Linked DNA regions of Homo sapiens: region 2 is linked to region 1. Evidence: fine-mapped expression QTL. A gene starts in region 1. The other region holds a variant in brackets. All regions are shown on one strand. Distances are from middle to middle. Region 1 holds the start of DPP4 (dipeptidyl peptidase 4). Region 2 overlaps LOC101929532 (a long non-coding RNA gene).

What was found.
Region 2: its variant is fine-mapped to the expression of DPP4 in lung (TOPMed, PIP above 0.99).

Annotation. Positions count from the first base shown.
Region 1 is chr2:162,073,092-162,076,000 of GRCh38, forward strand. It overlaps DPP4 (dipeptidyl peptidase 4), which reads right to left and starts at 1,124. Exons shown (of 26, transcript NM_001935.4): 1 at 885-1,124; 2 at 308-395. The coding sequence starts at 890. It overlaps DPP4-DT (DPP4 divergent transcript), which reads left to right and starts at 1,766. Exons shown (of 3, transcript NR_147697.1): 1 at 1,766-1,844; 2 at 2,387-2,520. RefSeq lists enhancers at 643-842, 1,277-1,974, a silencer at 993-1,252 and a promoter at 1,529-2,909.
Region 2 is chr2:162,117,811-162,120,719 of GRCh38, forward strand. All of the region lies in intron 1 of LOC101929532 (a long non-coding RNA gene), which reads left to right. Among named protein-coding and RNA genes, the nearest start is that of GCG, 33 kb to the right of the region's middle. The variant G/A (reference allele first, on the strand shown) is at 1,159.

The sequences.
Region 1 (2,909 bases):
AATTTACAAATTAAATTTAAAATTGAAATTTTAAAAATCCCGACTCTCCCTAATTTCAGGAAGCATGCATTTATTATACATAACAAGACGTGAAAGCCGCAAGAGTTTCAGCCTAAACACTGAAGACCCCGCGAAGTGAATCCAGCTGCTGCTCTACAAGCAGCAACAACAACTGGGAAGCCTTCTCAGCTACACTTCGGGGCACTGGTCCAACCCCACGCAAAATCCCTCGTTTCCCTTAGCGTGGTAAGACGGAGCCTGACCTGAGCTCCAACTGTCCTATCTTTTTCAAATGTTTCAAACTTACTGCCTTTGTTCAGCAGAACCACGGGCACGGTGATGATGGTGACAAGCGCAGCAGCACCCAGCAGTCCCAGAAGAACCTTCCACGGTGTCTGCAAGCCGAGCAGATCAAGTCCAATTAGAGGGAAGCGTGTGGCCCCAGTTTCCGTAGGAGGGTCGGGGCTGCTCCAGAGGCAGCAGGATTTGCAGGTGGGAGTGCGTTAGAAGAGGGAGACCGCGGGCTGGGGGTGGGGGTGGCGTCTGGAGTGCGCCAGTTGGAGTTCTCTAAGGCGGGTGCCCTTGAACTTGTGCCTTCAGAGCACATTAGCGTTGGTTTCTCTACCCCTGCCCGGGTTCGGGCGTGCGTTCTGTGAGTGGCTCTCCGGGACATTCAAAGCTCGACGCCAGGGTCCTAGCAGAAGCCAGGGTCCGAAAGCTAAGCGAGAGCTCTGGGACGTCCCTTCACCTGTCAGAGGGTGGCCTTGGGGCTTCCGCCTAAGGGGAGTCCCTGGTCCGGTTTCGCCAGCTTTTGGGCCATTTGGGGAGTTTGGCGAAGAGGTCCCCACAGCTCGCCCCGGGGACGTACGTGGCGCGGCACTCACCTTCATCGTCGGCGTCTCCTCGGAAGTGAGCGTTCAGAGAAGGAGCGCAGGCAGAAGTCACCGCGGGCGGCGGAGACGCGCGTCCTGCACCGCTGCTCCGGGCGGTGGAGTCACTCGCCGCTGGCAAGTTTCGGCCCCGAGTTAAACATTAGTGAGCGCCGAGCCCGCTGGGTATAAAGGCGCCGCGGGCAGGCTGCAGGGCAGGCGGCGCGGGAGCAGGCGCGCGTGGCGCGGGGCACTGGCATCCCGGCCGGGGGGAGCCCGCGAGGGCCCCCTGAGGGCGGTGTAGGGCGCTGGGCGGCAGCCGGGGCGCAGAGTGCGGGGCCCGGAGGAGCCGTGGGGGAGGGGAAAGGGCGCGCGGCCTCGGATGCGCAGACCCTGGGCCGGCGACTCGGGGACCCTGCTCCCTCTTAGCTAAAAATGACGTCGGCGTTCAGCTCCTCCAACCTCACGTGGACAGGCGAGGGAACCGAGACCCAGAGAGGGCAGGGGACTTTGGCAAACTCACACAGCCCACCGCAGGCAACTGGAACTGAAACCCAGGACTCCGTCTCTTGCCAGTGAAAGTTATGTTAGGAAGCAGTGAGGGGTCTAAAGCAGTATGAAAGGCAAAGAGAAAAGGTGATTGTTCCCTCTTGAATGGCCCTTGGAAGCTGAGTATCTGGATTCACCCTCCCTAGGGAATTTCCCGATTGTCTTGCAGGCTTACACACTCATCAAGATGACAAAAATAATGACAGTAACACTTATGTGGAACTTGACTTTTTCCCAGGTGCTGCTCTAAGCATTTACTGTGTTTGTTTTACAGGAAGGAAGACTGTACACAGAGAATAAATAACTTGGCCAAGCCATTCAGCTAGGAAGTTGTAGATCCTAAATTAAGAGTTCAAGGTCTTAATGGCTACTCTATGCGGCCTCTCATAGTCTTTTCAAGGGTTTTGGAGAAGAATAAAAGATCAGGTATGGCTTCTCCCTCCCCCAGCTCTCTATTGTTCCCTAAAGGATTATTCATTCGTTCATTCATTCCTACATCCTCCCATTTATTCCAGTCATCCACAGATGTTTGAGTGGTTACAATGTGCCAGCCTCCCTTCTAGGTACTGGAGATAAAGTGGGACAAGAGAGGTGAGGTCTGGACCCTTGGCACTTTCACGATAAAATACACAGGTAAACATTTGCCTTTAGGGCCCCCTGTGATTACTTCCACTCTTGCAGATAAGAGGATAAGGCCTCTTCAGCTTGTTCACAGCAGCTGAAAAGCAAAGCCTCTCTGTCAGTAGAGGTAAAAGATTAAGAATGCAGAGTCCGATGGGGCATTACCACATGATTATGAATTAATGCAATTTTCCATCTTTTATTTCCAATCCAGGCATTGCTTTTGAACTCAGTCATCTTTTCCCCCTTGCCCACTAGTTGCTTGTGATACATCAGTATCCTCACTCACCCCCAACTCCAGAGGCTGAAACTAACTCTCCTCCTCCCTCTTCCAACTGCTGAGGAAGATGAGTCAATGGTGTTACTGGACCCTGTGAACTGATGCTGTGAAGAGAGGCCATTTAACACGGACTACGGGGAATGGTGCCACAGGGGGCTCAGTGCTGCCCTTCACTCTCAGCATTTTGCTCACTCAGCATTGGTAAGCCACATCAGCCTCGGTGAAGGAAGTCTGGAGAGTTAAGCCTGTGCTTCATCTCCATGCCAGCACCATGGCACTCATTGTACATTCAGCAAGCCCCAAGGAAGCTGGCAGGAGGCTGGCTGACATCTACGGGACAGGTCAATTTGTTCTCTGGAGGGCACTCCATGAGACGCAAATATCTTCACACCCTGTGCCCATTTCAAGAGACTCTCTCACATGCCTCCCCCACCTTGACCTCTGTGTCACCAGTCTTTCAATCTTGTTTTTTCCAAATCCTTAAGGTAGCAGCTGGCCAACACATTAGCCACCACTGATGAGTCAGTGTAGATCTTACATTGGGCCATCTCTTTTTTCTTGCAAAATAGAAAAGCAGATGTTCTGCTCAA
Region 2 (2,909 bases), 45 kb after region 1:
GGTGATTTAATCAGTAAGGTATTTATTATCACCATATAAAACAGACCTAGATAGGGGCCTCCATGGTTAGGGAAATTTGTAATTTGTAGGCTCAGCAGATACAGCATAAGGGTGATAGCAGATTTGACCACATCTACAAATAATATGCATCTTTCCAAGAAGCCCAGACTGGGTACCCCTTGAGGCCCCTTGGCCATTGCCAAGCCTTCTCAGAGGTGATGGGAATGAATCCATTCAAATGGGCCCAGGACAATCCTGAATTCTCTCCAGAAAAGGGGAAGGGAGGCCAGCGAGCTGCTTTGCCTATGCACATGGAGATGACTTTCACAAATATTGAATTCAGGCAGGATGGAAAGCTTATACCTTCAGATTTCAAAGGCAAAGGAATATTTTCTGTGGACTAGCTATGTGTGGGGTGATTGGGCAAGTGAGTCAGTGTGGGTTTTTTATGAATTTGTACAAGGACCCTAGATGGTTGAAGGGCCAGAAGCCAGAAGTTGAAGTTAATATCAGATAATTAAGGGCTACAGAAGGACTCATGAGTAACCCCTGACTAACCATTCTGGTTTGCCCGGATCTCAGAAGTTTCACAAGATGTGGGCCCTTTAGGCTAAAATGGGAATATTCCTGGACAAGCTGGGATAGTTGGTCACCCTACCTACCTTGGGCCACCCATAATAGGATGCATTAACCCAGGACAGGACTGCAGGGCAGGGGCCCACCAGGGAACCTACAGGATGCCCGTGAAAGTGCCCATGAAAGAAAGACTCATCTGCAAACATTTGCCAGGCCTGGAAAGCCCGAAGCCAGTACAAGAAGGACATTTCCTGGCCCTTTACCATGTCTCTCTTCTAGCTCTGGCCTTAGCCCAGAAACTGGCTGGCAAGCTGCGGGGAGGGCATCAGAAGGGAGGAGGGAAAGCACTAGGTGAGGAATAGAGAATAAGCCATCCACAGCGGAGCAGCCAAGGAACAGGGACAGGAAAAGGTTTAGTGCTAAATCAGTTTCAGTTTCTGGTTATGTAAGATGTTCTGATTACTGAATTCCACTCACTTGTTACTAAAGGGATTGTAGGACGTTCTTGTCCTCACATACACACCCAAGAGTATCTAGAAAAGTCCTGGGATGCACGTGAATGTTCAACTGGGGCAAGGGAAG[G/A]TTAACTCCACTGAACACTTGAAGGGGAGTGCTGTGATTTCACAATGGGCCATGCTTGTTCAATATACTTCTTATACTGGAAATTTCAAAAATCCTGTTCCAACGAGAGTGACAAATGGCAGGTCAAGGAAATAACTTGTTTATTCCTCTACTTTGTGAGGATTATGCACTTTCCATGGACTGTTTAAAATTCCTCAAATGATGAATTTAAGAGGGAAAAAATCTATCTTTCCCATCTCTCACTCAGTCTCCAATGGCTATCAAACATCAAATATTTTCCTCTTCCCTAGGCTGGAGGCCTAACAACTCTGGGAACTAAACATCAGATTTTCCACAGAGAATTGTGGGTTCATTTATTCTTTGGGATGATTGTCAGATATTACTTGTCTTCCTCTACCTCCACTGTACCCCCTCAATCAGGTGAACCCACCTGCTAAGGCTACCTGTCTCAGCTCAGCTCAGCTCAGCTCATCTCCTTCTACTGGGATCCTGGCCTTCATAAAGTGCCCTTTACACAGACGCTGGCTTGTCAGTATTGCTACATATTTCCACCCAGCCCTGTGCCATCCATACCTGGCACCCAGTCTCAAGATCTGATGCTGATTCTCTGGTCTCTCTGGACCAAGCCATCAGATGCTTCTGACTCAGTTGCCCAGGATTTCTGTGTTAGAAAGAAACTGCCTGGGAACTGCTTCTTGATTTTTCTGGATCAGGCTTCTAGTCCCAACTCTGTTAAAATTCCTGGTATAATCTTAGACAGTTGTTTTAACCTCTGCAAGCCTCAGTTTCTTCATCTATATAATTAGGATAACAATAGTTGTGTTGCCTAGGGATACTGTGAAGAAATCAATTAATAGATGTGAAAACACTTTGTAAAAGTTAGACAGTAAATATATGCATGGTAGTACATATATATGCATTAGTACAATCTGGTTACCACGCTGAAGTTGGGATTTTTGATATTATTACCCTTATCTTTACCCTTCCCTGTCATTGCTGCATCTCTTGGCTTTTTGCTTAGATCCTTGATCTTCAGGACCTGATGTGCTGAATGTCAATATCCATCTGCTCACTGAGATGATCTTATCAGGCTCAATGTCTTCCTGTCACGTCATGCAAAGGTCATTTTCTCGCTCTCTTTCAGTCCCAAGTGAGCCACCTGAGCCTTCTCTCTTCAACTGCTTTTCTTTCTGACCTAATCTCCTAATGAATACGGAGACCTGTGCAATTCCAACCAACACTCTGCTCTTTTCTTCCTTCATAGCTGTCACACAGAGGAAACCCAAGACAGCAACATATTCTGGAAGCCAGGTGAGGAGAGTTTCTAAGAGGGAGAGAGTGAAAAATTCTGTCAAATGTCAAATTCTTTTCAAGGAAGATGAAGCCTGAGAATTGAGCACTGGATTTAGCAATGTGGAAGTTACTGGTGAGCTTGATAGGAGCAAATTGGGGGAAAAAATGAAATAAATTTCAATTAGAGTAGGTTCAACAGAGAGCAGGAACAGCTAAATTAGAGGCAATGATAAACAGCTTTTTCAAAGAGCTGTGTTTTGTTTTGTTACTTTTTTTTCTTAAGGTAAGGAAAAGAATGGGCATTAGCTACAAAGACAATAGGATGATGAAAGGTTTTACCAGACAATACAGACAAAAAAGAGAGGATACACTGATGAGAGAGGAGAGAAGAAAATGGCTGGAACAATGACTTGAGTAGGTTAGAGCAGAGGGGATCCAGGGCTGTACTGGAGGGGCTG